5 separate regions of the Homo sapiens genome follow, and regions 1, 3, 4 and 5 are each linked to region 2. Evidence: fine-mapped expression QTL. A gene starts in region 2. Each other region holds a variant in brackets. All regions are shown on one strand. Distances are from middle to middle. Region 1 holds the start of LINC02115 (long intergenic non-protein coding RNA 2115). Region 2 holds the start of NUDT12 (nudix hydrolase 12). Region 3 has its middle 140 kb from the start of LINC02115. Region 4 has its middle 19 kb from the start of LINC02115. Region 5 has its middle 99 kb from the start of LINC02115.

Region 1 (5,110 bases), 22 kb after region 2:
CTTAAAACATTTTGATCTGATTTCATGAAAGAAGACATTTAGGACGTTGAAATTTTTTCTATTACAATTGCAGTTACTCTGTGATTTAGAACAATTTCATAGGCAAAATATTCTGGCCAACATCTTTTTGTAAATAATCCCAAATCAAACTGCAAAACAGCCTATTTACAATCTTGCTGTTACTTAATCTTTACATCTGGTTATTTCAAACAAATTGTGCATTTGGAAAGCAAGATTTTTTCAGTGACCACTTACTATGATTTTTATGGAAATTAATACTTGCTATGAAAGACTCTTTTCACCATTAAGAATTCAGCCAGCTCCTTTTACCTTCTCCGTGCTCACTCAGAATTTAAATATTAGATATTTTTAAATCTCCTTTTCCTCTCGGATAATTTAAATTTTAGCTCGTTTATCTAATGTCAGATTAAAATGATGTTAAATAAGTATTCCTAAATTATATGTTTGGAAAATAAATTGAAAAATAAACCTTTATTATCTATATTTGTTTTAAGATATAATTCTCTTAGTTGCTAGCAACTGACCATTTAATTATATGTAAAGTCATCTAACTTCTTAAATAAATCTGTACTAATCATGTGATGAAATTACAATTAGGATGCTTATAAGATAGTCTTGGTATCTTCTCTCTAGGGGAAAAAAATCATCCACTGACCAAGTTTTCAAAAAGATCTTTAAAATGACACCAGGAATTTCACTGTGTTGTTTCAGATCTTCAACTCTTACTAGATGTGACGACACTTTCGTGGTCCCGGATTATTTTTACAAAAAGTAGAATAAAAATTCTGAATGTTATCTGATTTGTGAAGATGTACACACACTACCCAAAATCCACTGATAACTTATTCTGATCCCATGAGACTGTAGAGACCTCAGTGAATTTGAGATGGAATGGGATGTTAGCACTGATTATCTGCCCAATTTAAAACCAGTCATAAAGTGATTAAATTAACCTGACAGATTAATTCTAAGCATAATTTCTCATTCCCTCATCATTGGCCAGACTGCAGTTTACATACTTTTTTTATGACAGTGGGCAAAAATACAGCACAGTCAGTGACTTAAGCTATATAAAAAGAAGGTCAGCAGGAAATAGTAAGCATAGAACATTTTTAAATAAATGCCTTTTTATTGCTTTCAAAAACATGCATTTGTTTGGATTAAGCTACAGAAATGTATTTACTTAAGTGAATAAGTAAGCATAGAAAATGTTTTAAAATGGTGATTCTAAGATTGGAGATTTCTCCTCTAAATCTTTCGATTAAAGCCCCTTTGAAGCCTTTGTATCTTGTTTGCATTAATATTCTTATCAAATTATTTTTCTGAGGTAACACAGTAATTTCAGAGTAATTCAAGTTACCTTGATTTATGAACAAATAATGAGATTTAGCACTGTCCAAAGTGCCCTAAATATTGCTAACGATAATTGGCTCTTAATAATGGATAACATTGCCACTAAAATATTTTAAAGGTCATATTTATTATTTTCTTCTGAATGACTTGAAGTAGAATGAACATGCAGCCATTTCTTAGGCTACCATGAGCAAAGCACAATTTTGCTTAGGGATAAGATATATTTTGAGTGTTTATTTTAAATATTTACTTGAGATTTTTCTTAATCTTTAGAATTTAGAATGGTGGTTATACATCAGTTTTCCTTGATTCTAGACTGGAAAGGAATGAAGATGTCACAGGGGTTCTGCTTTAAGGAATCCGAAGCTCTGGTGTCAGCAGAATTGATGAGCTCTGCCCCTGGGGAACACCAACACAACTTCATTGAAAGAGTTACAGGGATTTCATGTTTCGGAGGAATTATATACAGAGGTTTCTGTTTGAAGGTATATTCAAATACTACTTCAAACTGAGGTTTAAGGTTGAATATTTCAAAATTAGGAAGACGTCATTGAAACCCAGCAACAGTTGGCGATTCAGCAATTATTAAGTCTTCAGAGAAACATAGCTCTTCTGTAACATGGTTATTGAAGTAGTGTGGCTCCACTTCAATAAGCAAAAAAAGAGACAGCATTCCTCTTTAGAAAACTCAAAGGCATTACTTATTTAATTAATAGGTAAGGAAAGTCTTGAGCAGAAAAAAAGTAGTCCCTGAGATGTATTCAATTAGCCTTTTGTGCCTATTCTTTTGCTAACTTTTACAAGGCATCTAATCATATATTTAAGTACATGTGTGTGCTTTATTTTTTCTTTCTTTATCTTAATGGAACTACACCTTCATAGTAAACTTTTTATTATTTGAAATACTTACATGTGTTAAAATGAAGTTATCACTTCTTATTGTGGACTATAATTAGTCAAAGAGGAATAATGTAAAATGTCACATAGGACTGAGTCAATTTTGAAAATGGGCTTTTCAAGAT[A/G]GATTCTGAAACTCCCTGTGCTGGTCAAGGTCAGCGTAGGGGAAAACCATAATTATAGATTTCTCAGACCTAGCAATTCAAAAAATATAGAGAGTAGCTAAGGTTCTAATTGTAATTGGATAGGGTGATTTCTCTTCATACAGTGATACTTAATTCGTACATCATTCTGCATGTGGGATTAGCTAAACTTCCAGTCTAATAGTCATTCTAAAGCCAGAGAGGAAATGGAGCAAAGCAAAATACAGTTCTTCAGGGATTTCTAGTCTAATAATGTCATTATGATAGCACGCAGAGTATGACTGCATCTTTAAAATCTTCTAAAGCAAGGGACGCACACCACTGCTGGAATGCACAATGGTTTGGAGTGGTGCAAGGTGAGATATTTCCTTTTTATTATTTGTTTTTAATATGTGTTAGATATAACCCAGGATTTCACCTATATTATTGCCGAACATGAAGCTAAAGTAAAAAAAAATGAATAAAAAAACTATTAAGCAAATAACAGCACAGCTATTTTATGAATGTTGTAGAACTCGTGAAGGTAGTATGCAAATGACTGAAATTGGGAACAATAAAGTTGTGTTCATTCATCCAACAAATATTTATTGAATACTGTGTTTCCTCCACACATATGGAATAGGAAGATATCAAAATATAAGATAGTCAAGGTCTTAGCCCTTGTGGATCCCACATTTTGGGTCATACCGCTAGTGGTTCCACAGAAGACTGGAATAACCTAAGGCTGTATACACTGAGGTGTTTTGTATATGTTTGGTGAACCCAGTAATAAAGTTCCTCTGAAGCTCATGTGGCTCAAGTCAACTGTGGAGCGGCCAGGGGTCTGGTTCAATTCCAGAATAAAGAATATGCCCCACAGATGCTGCAGCACTAAGGAGATGAGCAGATATATCCTCCATCATAAATAAGAAGATAAAACTAAATACCTCATTCATCCTGCCAAGTGCCCTCCTTCCAAACACTTCCACTACACTGTTATTCTCCATGTACTTACCAACTGTTTCAGCTCTTACAGTTGTACCCAAACTATAGGAACCCCTTGCCTCTGAGAAGCTGAATGTGAACACAGGAGAGCAAGCAATCAAAAAGACAACATGATTTGTCTTACTCCAACCGCCCTGGCCTGCTAATCTGACTTGCTAGATTTTTATCACAAGTTCCAGTTAGTACAAGATGAAAAAAGGATGTTGGTGAGCTAACATAAGATTGATTTAGAACACAGTTTGGGTACAGCCTCTTCACACTGGGCTGAGAAAAAAATAAAAAGCAATCTATCACTGAATTTTCTTCCTAGAAGCTTGTTGATATAGAAACAGAGAATCTTAAGCCAAAACAATAAAACAAAAAATCCAAGCCTTAGTGTGTGCAGTTGAGAGAGATGAGAAATGAGATAGAATAAAGTGAAACAATTCATAGCAAGTTTCCTCAGGGCAGCCCTAGCCTAAAATCTTAAGGCTTTCAAAGATTTTTTGAATGAAGTTCCATTCTACCTATTCAATTGGATCTGCTTCAGTGGGATTTCTAATCAAAATCGCTTGGTGTGTGTATAAGGGTGTGGGAGAGTGGGCACTCATTAAAATTGCATACACCTGGATCACCAATCAGACTCCAAATCTCTAAAGTGAAGGTCAAAATCTACATTTTCAGCAAGTTGCTCAGTGATTCTCAACCACATTCAAATTTGAGAATTCCTGTGCTAAACAGTAAACTCCTTGAAATGTACATTATATTTACATTTTTACATCAAGTTCAGCTCGGAACTTTAAGCCCACAGTGCACAGTGCCAAATTCAAAGGCTATCTCTGTTGTTAAGTACACTGGATTTTCCCAATTTTAATTTATCATTCCATAATAAAGTGAAAGAGGAAAGGGGCTGTTCATGAAGCATGTCAGGAAGAGCCTCTAAGTTTAACAGAGTAAAACAATGAAAATCTTTCAAAAATCTTAAGAAAATTGTTCGCTTTTCAGAACCTTACCATGGTGGAGAGAGAAAATGAAGCAGCATCTCAGGACCATGATTCTTGGGCAAGTTGCTACATCTCTCCCACTTTTCTCCAATAAGAAATGGGGGATTTGGATAGATGATCTCACACATATCGACAGTCAAACAAAGAACAGACATTTTGGAACTGTTAAGAGATTTTCTGGTATTACTGAATGTATCACACATTATTAGATACTAAGCTCACTTTTCTTTTCATTTACTAATATCAATTTTTTCTTTCCCAATTCTTTAAACTTTAGATATAGTAAATTCTACACTACACAATCCTCTTTTCTGTCTGCATTTCCTCAGAGACTCTGACTTAACGTTTGTAGGGTGGGCCCAGGTGCATTCGCTCATGCCTGTAATCCCAGCACTTTGGGAGGCCGTGGAGGGCAGATCGCTTGAGGTCAGGGGATTGAGACCAGTCTGGCCAAAATGTTGAAACCCCGTCTCTACTAAAAATACAAAAATTAGCAGGGCATGGTGGCGAGCATCTGCAATACCAGCCACTCTGGAGTCTGAGGCAGGAGGATTGCTTGAACCCAGGAGAAGGAGGTTGCAGTGAGCTGAGATCAGGCCACTGCACTCCAGCCTGGGAGACAAAGCGAGACTCCGTCCCCAAAAAAAAAAAAAAAAAAAAAAAAAATGTTTATAGAATGGGCTTCTTGTCTCTCCAAGGATTATCTTTATCCATTAAGTTACATTTGAT
Region 2 (5,110 bases):
AGACATACAAAGTGAACACGTTGTTGGAAAAGTGGCACCTATATACTTGCTTGCCACAAGGTTGTCATAAACCTTCAATTTGTAAAAAATGTACTATCTGTGAAGTACAGTAAAGCAAAGTGCAATAAAACAAGGCACGTTTGTATACTTACCTGAAGGATATTAGGGAACTAACTAATTATTCTGAAGATTAGGAAATAATGGTGAAAATCGCACATTTATCCTATCTTTCCATATAAGCTGTATAGATATTTAATTAGATGAAGTTCTTTATTATAAAATAATTTGTTAGTAAATGTAGAGTGAATATCAAATTAGAATATCACTATTTGCAACTCATAACAAAATGATGGATGCAGGCAATAATCATGAATGGCTGCTAAAACTATTAGCTGAAAAGTTGATGGAAAAATTTATAATATATTTATCATAAATTTAATATTTAAATAATATAATTATATTTATCATAATTATATATCAATGTCATATATTTATCATAAACATTTACCATATTTTTATAATATTTATATTATTATTTATCATACATGTTATCAGGTTGACAACATCTGAACCCAATGATCAAGTATAACATTAAAAAAAGAGAGACAACCAGAAGTTGTAAGCCTCTTGAAGTAATTCAATACAAAGTAAACTGTAACACCTATAAAGTCTTTTGTGAAAAAAAATCAAACTTTAATCTGAGTAATTCTATAAAGTTAACTACCAGTTTGCAAGAAATACAGGGGGAAAGGACAGCACAGGAATAAAATCTGCAAAATTCAGAATGTGGAAAATTCTACAGAACAAATGATCATTACTCTTTAGTAAATAAACTGCCAGAAAAAAAGGGGAAGAGGAAGGAATCCATAGATTTTTAAAAATCAAATGTGATGTGGAGACTTTGTTCAGATGAATCAACTGAAAAACATATAAAACTTCTGAGGCAAGTGAGTAAATTTGATATTGAATGTTTCTTTTATGTTATTACAGAATTATTGTTAAATTTGTAATACTAGGGATATTGAAGTTGTGTTGTTTTTCAAAGCCCTTATATTTTAGATATAATACATATTTCCAAAAAGTTTACTCTTAAATATTTGTCATCAAAACAATATGGGGTCTGGAATTTACTTCAAAACAATCCTAACAACTGGGAGAACTATATATTAATAGTTGTTGACTCTGGATCATTAATACACGAGGGTTCACTATACTAATCTAACATATGTTTGAATGCAAAGATTGGGTACTCCAAGTGAAGTAACTAATCCTTTCTGACCACCTGTCTGGTCACTGAAATCATTAAAGGCTGAAAACAACTAGTCACATAAAGAAGCATAGGGCGGCCGGGTGCAGTGGCTCGCGCCTGTAATCCCAGCACTTTGGGAGGCCAAGGCGGATGGATCACCTGAGGTCAGGAGTTCCAGACCAGCCTGGCCAACATGGCAAAAACCTGTCTCTACTAAAAATACAAAAATTAGCTGGGCCTGGTGGCGCACACCTGTAATCCCAGCTACTCGGGAGACTGAGGCAGGAGAATCACTTGAAACCCCGGGAGGCGGAGGTTGCAGTGAGCCAAGATCGCACTACTGCACTCCAGCCTGGGTGACAGAGTGAGAACCCATCTAAAAAAAAGAAAAAAAAAAAAAAAACAGCAGCACAGGGCGTTAGAAGCCCTCATGATCAATGTCAACTGGTGCATACAGCTTCACAGTGAGAAGGAGCTTCCAAGGGTAAAATCTGGGTGGGAAACAGTGATCAATTGTAAGAGACCCCTGTAGCTGTTGCTGATTACCAAGGAGAGAGTTTAGTAAAGGAAAAAGCCCTGGTCTGGAAGTTAGAAGACCGCCAACACCTAGTTTTGTAATCTCGGACTCATAACTTCTGTAGGTTTTGGAGCATAAAAGCACAGGAACTGAAATAAAAAATAACGACAATAATTTTGTTGTGGGTGCCCACTCTGCACTTCACAACATCCTAAGAGCTTTGGATACATTATCCTATTTACACCTCACAACCCAAGGAGGTGTTTTGCGCGCTTGATACATACTTTTTAAAGGACTACTGAATAAGTTAGGCGTCAGTATATGATACCAGTTTTCCCATGGGGTGAATGATTAAGGTGTTACAGAGGCCGAATATCTCGTTTAAGAGTGACTTGGTCTAGTCAATAGTCCAGGATTATTTAACAGGAAAGAATGCTTTGAGCACTCAATTGCATTGGACTGTATTGGAGAGAGGGCTAGGAGTTGGGTGGGAGACGCTGGAAAATTTAAAATCGTTTCCTTAGGCCTACAGTTTTCCGATCGCCTGCACCACGTTCTATCTACACATCACAGTCTCAGGAGAAGGATTTTCAGCCCTTCATTCAGCTCCAATCCTTTAGACCGCGATCTCTCCCGCGCCGGCTCCCAAACACTTCCACCCCCAATCTCCACCCCTTCTCCCTTGCGCACAACCTGTGGGCTTCAAACTACATCTCCCATAAAACCGCGGGGGCCCCCCTCCCGCCCCCCCCCCACCCCCGGATCTCCACCGGAAGTCGGGAAGACTGCATCCGGCTCCAGGAAAAGCGAGTGGGATATCCCAATCTTTGGACTGCATCCTGGTTGCCTCTACTGTGGTCACCTTTGGGTTAGTAGAAGCAGTGGGGAGTTAGTCGTCTCATTGCCTCCTCTGGGGGCGGTGACCACTTCCCTGGGCTCTTTGGTTCCCGCGCTGCCCTGCGTGGCCCTGCTGAGTTGTGTGGCGGAGCCTCGTAGTGGTTTGGTGGGCGCAGGCGCGGGAGCCACGGACGCATTTGCAGGGGCTCCCGCGACAGGGCGGAGGTGCGGCGGTACTGAGGTCGTAGAGTTTCCTGCCCAAGCTGAGATGGGGAAAAGGAAGCGCTACTTAGGGTGTGATTTCACCTCGAAAGAAGGAATCTCACAGTAGTGGCAAGAAAGTAAAATATCTTAAGGCATTTTACCATTTTCAGAGACCGTGCACGGGTGGCACTTAATTGGTCTTGAGTGCCCAGGGAGTGGATGAAATTCGTTAATTGATGGTCAGTGATTTCAGTGACAGAGCGATATTTAAGGTCCTGTCCTGTCCCATTCGGTCTGTGTGAGCATGCGGAAGTCATGGGCCCCGGGTTACATGTCAGTAAAAGTGGATGTTGGTTTGTTAAAAATTTATGTCCCTTTACATCTAATATTCTTTTAAATGATTTCTCGGAATAGTCCTTGAGCTTCTTGGAAAACAAGGGCAGCACTTTATTCTGCCTTCAAATCTTTACCTTCTATAACCTGTCAATGAGAATTGAAAAAGTAAATCAAACAGTAGAATTGGGTGTTAGACTTTATGTGCTTCTCTGGAATGAATAATGGTACTATTTCTAGATGGCTTTTCTGCTGAGAAAGCTAGAGGGAAAAGTGTACACTTTCCACTTCCCATCTCCACAGAATAGCATATGCATAAGCATTGCCCTGGAGGTAGTGAATGACGCTGTATTTTTGAAGGACAATTTTGCAGTTACCTGGCGCGGCCTGTGAGAATGTGAGGGAGTGACGGTGACCCCAGAACATGAGACAGTGAAATATTATTCAAACTAAACCTAGCTGAAAAAACTATAATATGGGTTTTTGGAAAATAAACTTAAGAGAAAGACAATTTGGAAGGGAGATCAGTACAGGAGCTGTACAGCAGTGCTTCAAAATAAAGTCCTGAAAATTTGTAGCTTTTGTTATGCATAGTATTTTTAACGTATGTAGAAATTTCAATATGAAAGGAACAGCGAAGTAAATTCTAGAATAAATCAAAAATTATTCTGTCATGTAGATATTACTTCTGGTAATTTAATTTCTAAACAGATTTCCACTGTTAGGTTTCATCCAAGTGTTTCCATGACTGTGAGCAGTTTTAACCTATTTATAAGTAGCAGAAAGACACAAATAGGAAAGGTGAACAGCTCCAAAATGAGACAATTAATCTTTACTCCTTGTTTTCCCTAAATTTTGTTCATACTATTCCTGCTATGCAATTCATCAGCCAGATCGCCCTTTCAGAACCCAGGAGACAGCAGCTATCAAAAACTATGGGCTATAACCTTTCTGTCTTTTTAGCTTAAAAATCTTATTGCTTAGAATGATAGAAATGTTGTTAGAATCCCAAATCTTTTCTTAATAGCATTTCATAGAAAGAAGAATTATACCTTAAAAAAAAATACTTTGAGAAGTTCACAGACAGTTGAATCATGAACCATTTTCACCATCCCCCGCCGCCAAAAAAAAAAAAAGACAAAAAAAGCTCAGTGTGTGCTCTATCATCTGCAGTCCATGATTAGGCAATATTTAAGAGGTATGGAACAATTATTTCAGGGTTTACCCCACCGAAACAAAAAGGTGACAAAGCAGATAAAGTTAATGAGTTTTAAAAGCTGCTCTGATTCAAGGACAACAAAGTGACCAACAGAACTGTCCAATAATAGAACCAAAAATATATGATCATCTGATTTGTGACAATATTTGTCTCAGTGTAGTAGGACAAAGATGGTAATTTCAAGAATAATACGGAGTAATATGGATTATGCATTGGGTAAAAAAGTATCTTGACCCCTACCTCATGCCATGAACAAAAATAGATCCTAGATGGATTACAGAATTAATTGTGCAAGGTCAAACAATAAACTGTTTTCCTGTGAAACTTATAAAGTCTCTGCCTTTACTTCCATCTGTTTTAATGCTCTCCCCCTCATGTCCCCACCCATCGTGAAGTCCCCTCTGGTCTACCCTAAATACCTCCTCCTTATGTAATATGTTACCTGGTTCCCCCTCCCAAGGATATGGCCCCCTCGTCTGTACTGTCAGAGCTCTTTATTCATTATTTTGTGTAACTCCCATGGGCATATAAATTGCGTTGCATTTTATAATTCTAAACTGATAACATTTTGAAATTGAAATGTATGCTGTTTAAGGATTGCCTGTTGAATAGTATGTTGCCTTGGAAACCATTGCTATTATTCTATTGCTATTTATCAATATTGTTCATTGATAAAAAAGCAGTTGCAAATAAGCTTTTTCCCCTGATTTTCCTTCTTTTAAGGAAGAAATGTCTTCTGTAAAAAGAAGTC
Region 3 (5,110 bases), 160 kb after region 2:
GTAAAACAAGAAGAAGATAGGATAACTAAATTAAAAAGCACAATTTCAGATGGCAGAGAAATCCAAGTAAAGTAGTAACCAGAATAAAACTGTAATTTAAACTGAGGCTATTACATAGCTTATTAGAAATCCACCTATATATGGTAACAAGGAAAACACTCAACCCTAAGGTCCCCCCCAGAATAGAAACTAAAATTATGTAGAAAGTTATTCTAAGAAAATACTTGCTAGAAGTGGGATTACATTTTTGGCTGGGTATGGTGGCTCATGCCTGTAATCCTAGCACTCTGGGAGGCCAAGGCAGGCAGATCATGTGAGGTCAGGAATTCCAGACCAGCTTGACCAACATGGTGAATCCCCGTCTCTACTAAAAACATAAAATTTAGCTGGGCATGGTGACACGCACCTGTAGTCCCAGCTACCTGGAAGACTGAGGTGGGAGAATGAATCACTTGAACTTGTGAGACGGAGGTTGCAGTGAGCCAAGATCACGGCACCACTGCACTCCAGTCTCAGCAACAGGACCAGACCCTATCTTTAAAAAAAAAAAAAAAATGGAGTTACATTTTTAATATTAGGAAAAAAAGCTTTAAGATTGTTTAAAAGTATTACAGGGAAAAGGAGGGGCATTTGAAAATGATAAAAGGAATTCACTGTAAATGCTGAACCTGTAAGCACCTAATGAGACAGCTTGAAAATACATAAACAAAAACATGAGAAAAAAATGTTCAAGAGAAATAAAATAATCATAATGAGAGAATTTTATACAACTCTCTCAGAAAGTGAGAAATCAAATGTATAAAAAATTTGAAGACAGAAGATTTAAATATCACAATAGATTTATATAATATCCAGTACTATTAGAGAACATCTATTCTTTCTAACTAGACGTGGAAAATTTACAAAAACTAATCAAATAAAACACAACTCAGCAAAACTTAACAAACACCAAACACTGACATAATACAGACCTCATTCTCTGAGCAAAATAAAATTAAATTAGAAATCAGCAAAAAATAACCCCCAAATTCCATGCATTTGAAAATCTTAAAAGTTTTAAATATGTTATTCAAATATTAAAGCACAATGAAAATTTGAAAAAAAAATTGGAGTTGAATGGCAACTTTTAAAATACGATATATCAGAATTAGATACAGCTGGTGTCATACTTCAGAAGAATTCACAATCTTAAATTCACATATAGAGAGGGTAGAGGGATTGAAAATAATGAGTTAAGCATTCAACTCAAGAAGTCAGTATAAAATTTAAAAAGTAAACCCAAATGAAGTAAAAGTATATAACAGAGAAAAGAGGCTAAATAGGTGGTATGAAGTGGGTATTTTAGACAGGATGTTGAGAAATAGCTTCTCTAAGGAGATGACATTTGGACAGAAACTTGCAAGAAGGAAAAATTTAAGATATTTATAACATATCTTTGATAATCAATTATATGCACATTTGCCTTCTGCTGTGCCATAGAAGGGGACAGAAAATTTTCTTGCCAGCCTGCCATTCATAGCAGGTGCATATATATAGAGTGGAAAAATCATCTCCTGGCTCATGCATCCTCCCTAAGGGATAAAGTCATAGATGCTGTAAGTGTTAGGAGAATAGATCCCTGAAGGAAAGGATGATGACAGAGTGTGTGAAGGGATTTCTTGTCCTGAAAACTGGAGAAGCCCTCAGTTCTGTCACCCAGTTCACAGTGAGAATAAGCATCTGCATCTTGTGTCCCAGTCCATACAACACTGCATAAGAGGAGAGGAGGGTCATCCTGGCCTCTTCACAGCAAGTGGGACTGCCCTCACAGGTGCAACACCACAGGCCACTAAGAGGCTTGTGCTCCCAGCTCAAAGGTAACTTTTACTTATCCCCTTTGCCTTTCATACCCATTGATCATCCCATCCAGATTAGGTTGATTACTCACATTCTCCCAACAGATGATCCTCCCCCTAACTCCTCACAGTCACATCATTGTCACCAATGCAGGTCATCCACCATCACCCAGCCTTTTATGCCCCACAGTGCTCTAGCTCCACTAATGGGCTCCAACATTTCACACCTGCCAGCGTTCAGAAAATCCACCCATGCCCTACCTATCACATCACCCTGCTTCTCTATTAACAGATAGCCATTTATCAATCTGATCATTTTCTTGTTTATATAGTTTTATGTCTCTTCCCTGCCTCTACCATGGGAATATAATCTCCATGAGAGCAGGGATGTTCTCAATCTTGTTAACTACCATATGTTCAGGTCTCAGCAGTGCCTACCAGGTTGTGGGAACTCAATAAATATTTTTGAATAGTTGAACTGAGTAATGAATGAATTTCTCCCGATATGCCCAGGAAATCTTCTCTCCACATGAAGGTAAGAAGAAAGATCATTAACACGAATGTCCATTCTATAGTACGATCCTGCCATTTTAGAGTGTGTAAGTGACTGTAGAAATACTGTTGTACAGCTCCCTCATGTCCATCTTTCCCTGTCGCATGAGAATTATGTGCCTGCTATGCTGGCCCCATGCCCAGATTCAAAGGATTATATATTACATCGATTTTAGCTGGGGCAAGATGCCAGCCAAGGACCATTTGGGAAGAATTTCCCACAGTAGGCAGAAAGTGACACCTCAGATGCAAGCTTAAGCTGCTCTCAGCAGCAAGTGATGCTAAACAGTCTCCATTTGTGACTGCACTGTGGGAGAGTACACCTGGGCATTCTGGAACATGACATCAGCAGCCAAAACAGCTTTTTATTTAAACTCCAATGCAGGCAAACTTAGGAAATCCACTCACACAGCAAGAAACTTCTTGGACCTTGTTAGTAGCTGACAGTTTGCAGCCCCTAATTACTCCACGCCTCCTTAAAGGGTTCTCTCT[G/T]GCATTTGCTTACTTCAAAGTTGCCAAAAAGTTTAACAATCAGCAACACTCAGGTCACTTTATTCACAGAGGTGAGCTTTTGGTTTTTCAGCAAAGGTGTATGTAGAGCCAAAAAAATAAAATGGTAATCGAGAAAAAATGGCCATAGAATGGAAATGTTATCTTAACCAACAATTACCCAGCCAAATATTCAAACTATGGCAAAAAACTAATTCTAATACTTAATGAGTTATTTGGCAGAAATTGCTAAAGGCTGAATTTTAATAGGTAAAGCTATCAGAGTTCCAACCAATCCAGCTAACTTTTATTCAACAGCGTAAGACCAGTCATAAGAGGCTTAATGGTAATACCTGACCTAGCTTTTCCATCACCTTACATTTTGCTTCTTCCAGAAAGAAGAACCTGCTCTGACTCTTCCAAGACCAAATGTCCATGATATATTTTTAATGGAAATTGACTCTTGCTACTTTTTATTGAGGAACTCATTTGTTTCCTCAATAACATATAAGCCCCTTAAATATGAGGATCATATCTTGCTTTTCCATTATGTTCCTAGGGCTTAGCACATTTCCTGGGATAGAATGGGTGCTAAATAAGTGCATTTGGTTGAATGGATGGATGGATAAAAGGAGTAGTAAATGAATCAGAGTAAGCAAGATAGCAGCAAGAGGAAAAACCAAACTGTTTTCCCTCTACTCACACACCACTTAACAAAACACTTCTGACATCAGATGTGTGGAAGTATTTCCACGTACACCAACTAAGCAATTCTTCAGCAGACACCAGTAGGTTGTCCTCTAATTCAATCTGATTACGACACTACCTACTTAGAGATAGCATCAGATCCCACAGGTTATGGCCTCAGTCCTACAAGGCTGCCTCCACTTCAGATGCCAGTCACAAGTCCCAGGTTGTGACCTATGATGGGCTATAAATCCAGGATTCCCATAACCCTTTCCTGGATTAGACTAATTTGCTAGAGTGGCTCAGAGAACTCAGGGAAATACTTTATTCATACTTAGTTTATTAATAAAGAATATAATAAAAACCCAGGTTAACAGCCAGATGAGAAGATACATAGGGCAAGATCTTGAAGGATCCTGAGTGTGGAAGCTTCTGTCCCCACTGAGTGAGGTGCAGCACCTTCCTGGCACTCAGAAGTGTTCACTAACCTGGAAGCTCTCTGAATACCATAGTTCAGGAATCTTTATAGCAGTTTAATCACATAGGCATGATGGGTTATCAACCATTTCCAGCCCTTCTCTCTTCTCCAGAGAATAGGGGTGGGGCTGAAATCTCCAAACTTATAGTAATGGCTTCGCCTTTCTCATGAGAAGCTTCCATCTAGGAGCGCACCAAGAGTCTCTGCATTAGAGCAAAAGATGCTCCTATAACTCAGGAAATTCTGAGCTCTGTGTCAGTAACCAGAGCAGAGATTAAATATTAGAACAAAAGATACTTCTAGCACCCTTACTGCTTAGGAAACTCTAAGGGTTTTAGGAGCTCTGTGCCAGGAACTGGGGGCAGAGACCAAGATATATTTCCTATTATTTCATTGACAGACACCTCAAGTACCTTGTATCACAAACCACCTCTGATTTTAGGACAGCTGTGGTATATAATATATGAAAGCTTAGATGAAACCATCTCTCCTCACCCCACCTCAAACATAATCTGTGTTTTTCTGCTTAGAGCCTCTCTGATACTGCAGGAGCCTATTTTGTCTGCTTGGGTATAGTCCACAAGTGCAGGGGAGTTACCTTCTCAGAGAAATCCTCAGCCAAGAAGGGGCAAGGGCTAGTGGATGGATGCCCCAGCTTCCTGCCTGTCTTCCAGGCAAACAAATCTCAGGAGCATTCTGAGCATCAATCCCAGCAGAATTGAGCCCCTACTGTCTACAGCAATGCCCTTGATACCACAACCTTAGGCTGGCTTTCACTCTTCTCATTCCTGCATGCTACTTCCTGGGATTATCTCCCAAACAAACTGCCTGCACCCAGGTCCTTGTCTCAGACTTTACTTTCATGGAAACCCAATGTGTCATAATATGAGACTGTCAAGTTGAGAAGAATGTCCAAGGACCTAAATGATGTAAGACATGACAGGCTCAGGAAACGTACATGAGAACATATTGTATCACATATTCCACCACTGAATAAAATAACAAAGGGGCAAGCACTGAACATAGTGCTAGATCATAGCAAATGCTAAAGCAGTCCCTCTTTTTTGGT
Region 4 (5,110 bases), 39 kb after region 2:
TAAAAAAAAAAAAAATCAATTTCTCTTTAAAAGGTTGATATATTGCCAAATCAATTTTGTAGGAAATGTTAGTCTTTGCCACTCTTAAATAATCCACCATTTCTTTCCTTCTTGCAAGCTAAGCATGTTCAGAAGAATAGGAAGAATATGTTTGTAATAAAATATATTTTTAAATCTTGCTGTGGTGTTACAGAGGCATTGTATGTATGTCTTGGAAGGCCATGTGGAATAGTAATTACAACAAAGGACAAAAAACAGAAACGACCTTGCCTAATCCTCACTGAGCCACCATGGGGCCTCTGACCTCCAGCAGACCTCTGACCTCCCTTGTGCATTACTTGGACCAAATTGTTGATAGAACCCAGAAGCTCTCCAGACCTCAAGTAGGGCCAAGATGGAAGTTCTTTCCTAAGTACATAATTCTGCCTGTCTGCTTTCAATCTCAAATCAGCACTATATCATTTTTGTCACTTCATAGAAGGCCCTTGTTTTTTTAAATGAGTCCAAATTATTTTATATTTAATGTTAGCATTATTCCATATTGTAAATTAAAATACATTTTGAATGAGTAAAAACTGTCTTCTAAACTGCTGGTAATAATCCTAATAGCTTCAGAAATTATATTTGGAATGATGAAACTTAAAGGAGAAGGTATATTTTCTTTGTAGTTCTGTCTCTAGATTTTTGAATGAAATTAGTAAAATTTAGAAGTAGAAATAAAATACAAAAAGCATAATCAATTACATAACTGTTAGAATAAAATGTGAAATTTGTTTTGTAGAGAGTAAATGCCCTAAAACAGTATGAAAACTCTATGGTCATCTGCTTGATATGAACACCCTAAAGCAAGGACCATCAGTCATGGGGACTGCTTCCTGGTGCCAACATCCATCCAGAAATCAGCATCAATGACATTAATCCCAACACTGACTTCAGTCTATAGTTATTTGGAACTGCAAGGGAACCTGCAGTAAGAACAACTGTGCCTCCCAAAGGAAACACATGCTCACCTGGATGAATATATCTCCCAAGTTGACTCTCCTTCCCCCAGAGGCATGTTCCTCCCTGTCCTACCTCTCCCAGCGGGAAACATTTCTTAAGAAAATCAATAATTCAAGTCAGAATTCTCTCAAAGCTGATATTACACATCAGAGTTTGAAACTGTCCCATTTGGTAAACAATTCCAGCTACTGGTTCCCTGTGTTACTGATTCATCAAAAGGCTATTCCTACAACTCTCTCCCTGTATCCTTTTCCTTGATCACTCTTCCAGCCATATTGACTTACTTCCTAGAACCTTCCAGCCCAGATCCACATCAGGCCCTTTGCATGGACTGCTCCCACTACTTGGACCAGTCTTCCCCTATATGTCTACATGGTTCATTCTCATCTCCTCATCTCCTTTAGATTTTTGCTCACACAGCATGTTCTCAGGAAGGTCTTCTCAGACCACTCCATTTAAAATTGCAAACTGAACCATCTTCATTACAGCCCAGGCAAACGCTATCCTTTTTCCATTTATACATAGCACTTTTTGCCTTCTAATCTGCTATATATTTTACTGGTTTATTTTTGTTTTGTTCTGTCTTCTTTCACTAGAATATAAGTTCCAGGAGGGCATGGATTTTTCCTGTTTTGATCATTGCTATATTCATAAAATTAGATAGTACCTGTCCTGTAGTATAGGTGCTCAAATATTTATTGAATGCAAAAATAAATGCAGGGAAGTCACATCAGATTTCTTTGAATAGTTCACATACCAAAACAAACAACAACAACAACAACAACAAAACCAGGAACATAGTTCAGCAGTTATAATATTAATACAAAATATTTGAATCTATAAATGTTTGCATAGATTTAACTCTCCTAGAACTATGAATATCTTTATACTTTATTCAACATTATTGTCTTCATATTACTGATATCTCAGGCTAGAACTGGGTAATTTTTTCAGGGAGTGTATTGCTTTGAGAAACTGGGATACTTTTGGACTGTTTTTACCAGAAAATTATAAAATTGATATAGGCACAAACTTACACTTACATTTTGAAAAGCGATCCTCTAACCCCTTAACATCCATGCATGTGCCTCAGATTCGGAGTCCCTGACATGAGTGTTCACTGTAATATTTGTGTAGTTCCTTCCACCATGTGTGTGCGTTTAGGAATCAACTAGATTAGACGTCACAATGTGAACTGTCTACAGGGGCCAGGCAGGTGATGTAAATGAGT[A/T]AAGCAGGCTGTATGTGAGCAAGTCTGGAGTGTTGGTGAACTAGCGAGTGTGTCCTAAGGGAAGGAAAACGCAGGTCCAGTACAGACAGGCCTTCTGACTTCCAAATAGCAGGAGACCTGGATTCTTTAATGTATGAGTCTGCAGATCATGAGATTTGGGAGACACAGTACAAAGTAAGCAATCTGTGACCTCTGAACTAGATAAACAAGAGAAGGTGGGTGTGGTATGGGGGGTGTGGCAGGAAGTAACAGCCATCATGTTATAAAGGAAAGATACCAGATACCAGTCAAACCTTTAATAACTAAACACTAAGTTCTTCCTCTGCCAGGTAAGGGCTATACGTTGTTGGGTTAAAAAAGTAGTTGCTCAAGGCTTCATTTATTCAGCTGTTAATGGTGTGAATATATCTTTAAGAGCTCTGCCAAAGAACCAGAAATTCTATATCATAAAAAAATGTAATGAGGAAACCAAAAGTAGGCTAGCCTGAGAAAATTACAGACAATGAGAAGGATTAGATGATATTTTTACATGGCATAGAAATAGCCATAAACAGCCCTTTGTATGTAATATAACACAAAACTTACATACAATGTGTGAAATGTTTTATTTCTCTTAAAATAGGAGTGATTCTAAGAGTTCACATCAAGGCACAAAGTTATAGAGGACTGCAAATCTGAGAAAGTTTGTGGTCCCAGGCTCTGCACCAAGCACTGGGAATAAAAAGATGAATAAAAAATTATTTCATTTCACGTAGCAGAATACAACTGTTGGGATAGTTTCCAGCAAACTGACTTCTGGTGAAATCAGGAGCTTTCAACACCCGTGCCCACTTCAACATTTCTCAGCAGACGCACATTCCAAGATCCCAGTTTCAGCGGCAACGCTCTGCTTTTCTCCAGCAGGGCTCCTCCCAGATCTGCTTCTTTTTTGTGGTCTTCCCATTCATTTCCCAGGCCCTGCTCTGGCTTTCAAGGTGGTAGCTTTCCACTTTCACACTCATGTTTGGTATCTCAGACCATTTGTGCTGTTACAGCAACATACCAGAGACTGGGTAATTTATAAAGAACATAGATTTGTTTTTTACAGTTCTGGAGGCTGAGAAGTCTAAGGTCAAGGTGCCAGTATTAAGTGTCTGGTGAGGTATTAAGCATTTTGCTGCTACCAAGATGGCTCCCTGTTGCTGCGTCCTCACATGGCATACACAGAAGGGCAAAAAGGCCTAATCTAGCCCTTCTAAAGAGTACTAAGCCAATTTATGAGAGCAGAACCCTGAAGACTTAATTATCTCTAAAGGCCCCACCTCTTAATAATATCACATTGGATCTTAGGTTCCAACATATGAATTTTGGGGGACATATACATTCAAACCATAGCAACTGATAAAACATTTGTGCTTTTTAGTGGATTAATATATTGTTGCTACAAAGTGATAAGTGTGCATTTTAACAGAGTCCCTCAAGAGATTTGAATGTCTTCATTTCAGTACAAACAAATTGCCTGACTCCTTGAAAGACTTGATAAATATCTACTGGGTATTCATGGAATAAAGGGGAGGCTCACACGTGAAGGAAGATTACTGAGACATAGATTCAATGCATCACATAAAAACTTTCTATCATATTGTAGTATACAAGGATTAGACTGACTCAATAGGGAATAAATTTGAGTCTGGGAAGTGTTCAAGCATATATTGAATGATTACTTGGTAGAAATTTGGTAGAAATGTTTTGAGCATAGAGAGGTTCGTTAGAACAAATCACCTTCTATATTCTTTGCAAACCTAAGAGTCCACAAATACCAAGCAGGACAGTGGAAGTGGTACTTTGTACTTGGTGGGCATTTCAATCGTTTTCAGATCACATTTTAAAACACACTGTAGAACATATACTTTCCCCTAATTTGAAAAGATCAAAAGTATATGAAAAGATCCTGGAGGAAAAGTCTTCCCACCATATCCCAGGGCCATATTATCATACACAGTTTCCTAGGTCCATAAGATTTCTTTTATACTCCACACTTTCAAAAAAGAATTGCTGTTACACGTAAAGTATTTGATATCAGAAAATTATCCTCCTCATGAATGCCTTCATAGTTAACCTACACTCTCAATCTCAAAAAATAGCGGAACTAGAACAAGCATTGGAGAAATGGCCAGAGATCAGTTCTATATTATTTTTAAAAGTTCCACCACTCTGTAACATTCTAGTGAGCAAAAGCCATCTTGCTCATTGTGACCGCTCCAATAACCAACACGACAGAAATTAGTATGTAGAAAGTGAACACTGAATATTATCGAATGAATGTTGTTTTCCTGTCACCCTCATAAGAGGTAGGAGTCCACCGCAAAGTAATGGAAAATGAATTAGGTAATGATTCTTCTTTCTCCTCACCTGTTTAACCTTAACAAGTGAATTTTATTTTATTCTTTTTTTTAGAAACAGGGTCTCACTCTGTCACACAGGCTGGAGTACACTGGTGTGATCATAGCTCACTGCAGCTTCAAACTCCTGGGCTCAAGCGATTCTCCCACCTCAGCCTCTCGAGTAGCTCAGACAACACGCGCATGCCACCACATCCAGCTATTTTTAAAATTTAGAGATGGGTGTCTTGCTATGTTGCCCAGGCTGTTCTCAAACCTCTGGCTTCAAGCAATCCTCCCTCCTCAGCCTCCCAAAATGCTGGGATTACAGGTGTGAGCCACCTTGCCAGGCCTCTGACAAGTGAAGTTTAAGTTGTTACATAAATGGATCATTAATAATTATATATATATATAAAAATAAAGATGCTTATTTCTTCATAGATATATCCCATTTGTTATTTAAATAGTTCTGAAAATAAATTTTGATATTGATAAATTAGATTTTAATTTGCAAAGA
Region 5 (5,110 bases), 120 kb after region 2:
TCCTGCTGCTCTTTTCATTTTCAGGAGTTTGTATGCCATCCTTCTCAGTAAGACTCAGTGGGGAGTCACAAACTGGGGTGGAATTTCTGTTTCACATGAAGAAGTCCAGTAGTTCCCCATGGATGACAAACCACTGCTGCTGTTTTCTTTTTACTCTCCAAATATAAGATCTCAGGGATATCTCAGGATGGTGCTATTGATTGAGCAGCTTACTAGAAAATGAGTGTGTTATAATTCAGAAATACAGTGCTTTATGTTAGCATCCTTGTTCTGTAGACATATAAGGCCAATTTTCACAATTCCTGCCCATTCATGATTCCAAGCTTTGGAGCAAGATGGTTTTTAATTTAAATTTCACCTACAAACTGATAGATAACTTTATAACATCAACAGGCGAGTCATCACCTCAATGTCTAAGGCATTTGATATTTCTCTTTCTGAACTTGTTCTACAAACTGTTAGGGGAAAAATTGCTTTAATACCAATTGTTTCATTTTTATGATATAGATATGATTTCTAATGAGATTATAGATTTCCTTTAAATATGCTCATTTCCTCACAAAATGGTATACAAGCAAAAGTAATTATCAATTGTCTTCTCTACATATTTTGGCTCTGTGCCTTTGGGAAAATTTGGATTGTTTGAGCTTAAATGTACTGCCAGGTACCCTGTAACTGTCCTTTCAGAACAATAACAAGCATCATCATTGACAAACAACAGGACTTGTGTTTCATTTTACCTGGAACACAACGTTGAGCACACACATTCATCTCTCCAATGTGTCATCCTAATGAGCCTCAATATTTTTAAGAGGCATTTATTCTGCTAATGCACTCAGAGTCTGAAGCAAAGTGGAAAAAATGAACACCCAAACTCCCAGCAGGCTCCCATTTCGCAGCAAAGAACACAGCAAACTCTGCCTTCTGAAATCATTTGCCCTGCCATGTTAAAACTAAAGAGCAAAAATGAAACCAAACAAAGAAGAGGAACTGGCAAGTACAGGCAGGGCATTCTGATAAAGAGATAAAGCACAGTGCTCCCAGCCTCAGGTCACAGTTCCCAGAGTTCCCTCCCAGTTCCCAGGCCTGTGGAGGAAGGGCTGCCCTCCAGAGAAGAGAATTTTAATTTATCTTTGGCCTTCATGTCACTGACTGTGAAAGCCTAAGACCTGAGTTGGCCTGGGGCATTTAACTAGTTCCATTGCACAAAGGAGAGTTACAGGTAAGGAAAAGCACGAACCAAGGATTGCTATTCGTCACAGTGGACATACCAGGAACAGGGCTAGGAAGACAATCCCAATGGTGAGTGAGGTAACATCTTCCCAGACATGTTACCTAACTTATCAGGCTCAGCGCTTATAGACAGGGGCATTAAAAACAGTCTTTGCTAAGGTGCTTGTTTCCATTGCCTTTCTATACATGATTCCCTGTTCTTTGACTGATATACTTTTGATTTCCTCAGAATAAAATAGAAGCCAAAAAGAAGGGATGTCTATGGACACGAGAAGGAAAAAGAGTACTTCCCTATAGACAATGGATAAGTTTAGGTTTTCTGGCTAGTTGCTCGGGTATTCAGATTGTCTTAGCAAGAACCACGTAGGGCAGTGGCTTCCCTAGTGTCAGACAGACTTGGTCTGGGAGTTGAAGACTTTTGGCACAGGATGACCACTCAGCTGACCCTTTTATGTTACACCTGCAGAGCCATGTCTGGGAAGATGTTACTCTGCACAACAGTAGCCTCCCACCTCTGGCTATCAAGAACCCAGGGTGTCTGGGTCTTCTGCACCAGCTGGATATAAACACGGACATGTGGGTCCTGCACTATTGCATCTTGAAAGGATGGTTGGCTTGTATTTCTATGATAACAATCGCTCTACCCAAGCCTCAGGTATGGACTCAAATTTCACTTGAAATAATAGTAATTACAATAATAATAGTAGCAACATATTAGTTTTATTGATCTTCTACCTGGCCCTGTGCCATGTGCTTTACCTAAATTCTTCCATCAGTCCTCCAGAGAAGAGGTATTATTACTGTTCCCATTTTACAAATTAGAATGGGAAAGTGGCTGCAAAGTGTACATAA[C/T]TTGACAAGATCACATGTAGTAAGTAATGAAGGTGGGATCTGAAGACAGCCAGGCTAACTCCAATGTACCCTTCACCTCACATTCTATTGCCTGGAAAAGTGAAAAGTAAATTCCTTTATTCTTTTTGTCATTGATGCATTCAGAGTCAATACCAATAGTTTTCTTAGGTAGTGACTTCTCTCTTTTCTCATAATGCCTAAGTCATTGTTATTGTGTAATTTATAAAGAGAAGAGGTTTATTTAGCTCACAGTTCTGCAGGCTGTACAAGAAGCATGGTGCCAGCATTTGTTTCTGGTCAGGGCCTCAGACTGCTTCCACTCATGGTGGAAAGGGAAAGCAAGTCAGCATATGCAAAGATCACACGGCAAGAGAGAAAGTGAGAGAACAGGGAGGTGCTAGGCTCTTTTAACAACCAACTCTTGCAGGAACTAACAGAGCAAAACTCACTCATTAACACGAAAACGGCACCAAGCCATTCATGAGGGATCTTCTCACATGACCCAAGCACTTCTCATTAGGCCCTTTCTCCAACACTGGGGATCTTTCCAGTTTGGAGGGGTCAAATATCCAACCATAGCATTCCACCCCTGACATCCCATAATTCATGTTCTTCTCATATTGCAAAATACGATCATCCCTTGCCACCCCCGTGACCCAAATACCTCCCATTAGCCCCGCTCCTCCAACATTGGGATCAAATTTCAACATGAGGTTTAAAGTGGTCAAATATTCAAATTATAGCACATAGTAGTCCTAATTTGGACAAGTGAGTAACAACAACAACAAAAAAACACATATTAACTATTTTCTTTGGGCAAATTGCTTAACTTCCTAAAACTTAGTTTCCTCATTAATAAAATGGGAATAACAGCTATCAATCTTCCACAAAACTGTTGTGAAGATCAAATGAGTCATTGCTATTAAAGTGATTTAAGAAAGCTCTATACAAAGTTTTCTTACATATATTATTAGATATATTTTATGTTTTACTGTATGTATTTTATTATGTATTATACTTATTAAATTATATATAATAGTTTAAAGTTATATGTACAAATGATCATACAAATAATATAATTTAATAAAATAATTGCACCTGATTTCCACAAAATAAATTACTTAACTTTCTTATAATTTTTGACAAAATATATCATTGGTGTTCTATTTGCAGTTAAATTTTTCCCATATGAATAATCTTTAAATAATTAGCAGTAATTAGCAATTGTGAACATCCTGGAATCTCAGTCATTTAATTTCTTCTTTTAGGATTAATGCTTATGTTTAGATAGGTAGACATGCCAAATTGGAAGGAGGCATCCAGTGACCATTTTGACCTTGGAAGTGTACAAGAGGTACAAAGTGAGCAACACACCATGGCCCGTTTTTCATCACTCAAGATGAACAATGAAATGAGTCTTCTCCACCCTCCCTTCCATTTTAAAACATGACCCTAACATCATTCCACTATGAAGAGATAGTCTTTCTAAGCCCTTACAAAACAGGCTGTTTCTATTCAACCCCAAATTCTTAGTTTTAAACAGCTGATAGCAGGATGGGAATTAAGGTAAACAAAACAATTAAACCTCCAAAGTAGTCACTGACTGGGACTTTTAGTATAAAATATCACTATAAACGTCTGAACTCCTTTAATTACCAAATCAATTAAGCTAATTTTCAAGGGACTGTTTTCATAGACAGAAAGAAAATGCTTGGGATCGAATCCACAGATTACTCCAAATTCAGAACTGTTAGCAAAGTGCTTTTAAACCCCTGGGGCCCAGAGACTGCCACTGATTACAAGAGGTTAAAAATAGTAATGACAGCCACTAGGTGGCTTTTCTTATCCCAAAAGGTCAGAGGCCCTACTTGAACAGAAAAGTCCTAATTAAAGAGCTGCAAAAACTGGTCTATTAAATAGCTTAAATATAATAACAGCAAAAGCAGCAGCTGTCATTCAGTGAGAGCAGCTCTTGTACTAGGCACTCTGTTGAGTGCTTTTACTTATTATTTCATTTAATTTCTACAACAACCCTATAAGGTAGGTTATAGGTTATTATCCCACCTACAGGTTTAGAAACTGATGCTTAGCAAGGTTAAATAATTTGCCTAAGTTCTCCTAAATAGTAAATGGTGAAGACAGAATTTGAACCCAGGTAGCCTAACTTATCAATAAAAAGAAAAAAATTGATGAAGAAGAAGAAAATGAAATTCCTGTTTATATTCAGCTCTTATCGTTGCATAACTCTTTCTAGAGATGTCTATCATTCTTTGTTGCCTCTAGAGCACGCCAGGGCCTTATATTTTGTCCAGAAGCTCCTGTTTCTGGCCTTATCTTCCGCTGTTTCTGCTAAAGTACCCTACATTCCACCCAAACAGGGCTGCATTCTATTTCTTTACCACACCCCACCTTGTTAATATTTTTCTGACCCAATGATTTTATTTGTGCTAGTTCCCTCCCCTGAACTGTCTCCTACCTACTGATCACCCAATATAAATTGTCCAGATTCTAGCTGTCCTTCAAACATCTATTCAAGGGCTGTCCATCTCTACTATTAAGCAATCTCAGATGGTCCTAGATAAATAAACCTTCTCTCTTTTCTGAACTTAACTGTCGTTTGACAATTATCATCCTTTACCTTGTGTTTTATTTTCTAATGGTTATCTTTTCTAAGGTATTATATGCTCCAAAAATGACACATTATGTGTACTTAATGAAAGAATATTCAAATTAACTTAACTGACCATGATTGCTATGAATTGTGAGTAATTTGTCATCCCCTCATTTAATAATGGAGATTAGGAAATTGAAAAGCCAGTTCAAAGGCAAAACTAGAACTCAGTTCACCACATGCCTGGCCTTTCTTCCATATGACACTCTTTCCAGATATAAACAGTTATCTAATTTCTTCAAGCACCATCCAGAGCTCTAAGGTTATGGTCATCCCACCCCACCACCACTACTGACACTCACCCACCCAGGTGTGGGAATCAATACACAGCATCTGGGGACCTGAAGACAGATG

What was found. PIP is the estimated chance that this variant, and not a neighbour inherited with it, causes the effect.
Region 1: its variant is fine-mapped to the expression of NUDT12 in whole blood (TOPMed, PIP above 0.99). The same link has a PIP of 0.9 or more in monocytes.
Region 3: its variant is fine-mapped to the expression of NUDT12 in whole blood (INTERVAL, PIP above 0.99).
Region 4: its variant is fine-mapped to the expression of NUDT12 in whole blood (TOPMed, PIP 0.97).
Region 5: its variant is fine-mapped to the expression of NUDT12 in whole blood (INTERVAL, PIP 0.95).

What each region holds. Positions count from the first base shown.
Region 1 is chr5:103,538,603-103,543,712 of GRCh38, reverse strand. LINC02115 (long intergenic non-protein coding RNA 2115) reads left to right here and starts at 1,728. Exons shown (of 5, transcript NR_104670.1): 1 at 1,728-1,859; 2 at 2,682-2,770. The variant A/G (reference allele first, on the strand shown) is at 2,397.
Region 2 is chr5:103,560,227-103,565,336 of GRCh38, reverse strand. NUDT12 (nudix hydrolase 12) reads left to right here and starts at 2,548. Exons shown (of 7, transcript NM_031438.4): 1 at 2,548-2,634; 2 at 5,083-5,110. The coding sequence starts at 5,089. RefSeq lists enhancers at 2,245-2,775, 2,776-3,308.
Region 3 is chr5:103,400,502-103,405,611 of GRCh38, reverse strand. No RefSeq gene overlaps it. Among named protein-coding and RNA genes, the nearest start is that of LINC02115, 140 kb to the left of the region's middle. The variant G/T (reference allele first, on the strand shown) is at 2,880.
Region 4 is chr5:103,520,772-103,525,881 of GRCh38, reverse strand. It overlaps the pseudogene PDZPH1P. Among named protein-coding and RNA genes, the nearest start is that of LINC02115, 19 kb to the left of the region's middle. The variant A/T (reference allele first, on the strand shown) is at 2,234.
Region 5 is chr5:103,440,530-103,445,639 of GRCh38, reverse strand. It overlaps the pseudogene PDZPH1P. Among named protein-coding and RNA genes, the nearest start is that of LINC02115, 99 kb to the left of the region's middle. RefSeq lists a silencer at 2,442-2,660. The variant C/T (reference allele first, on the strand shown) is at 2,086.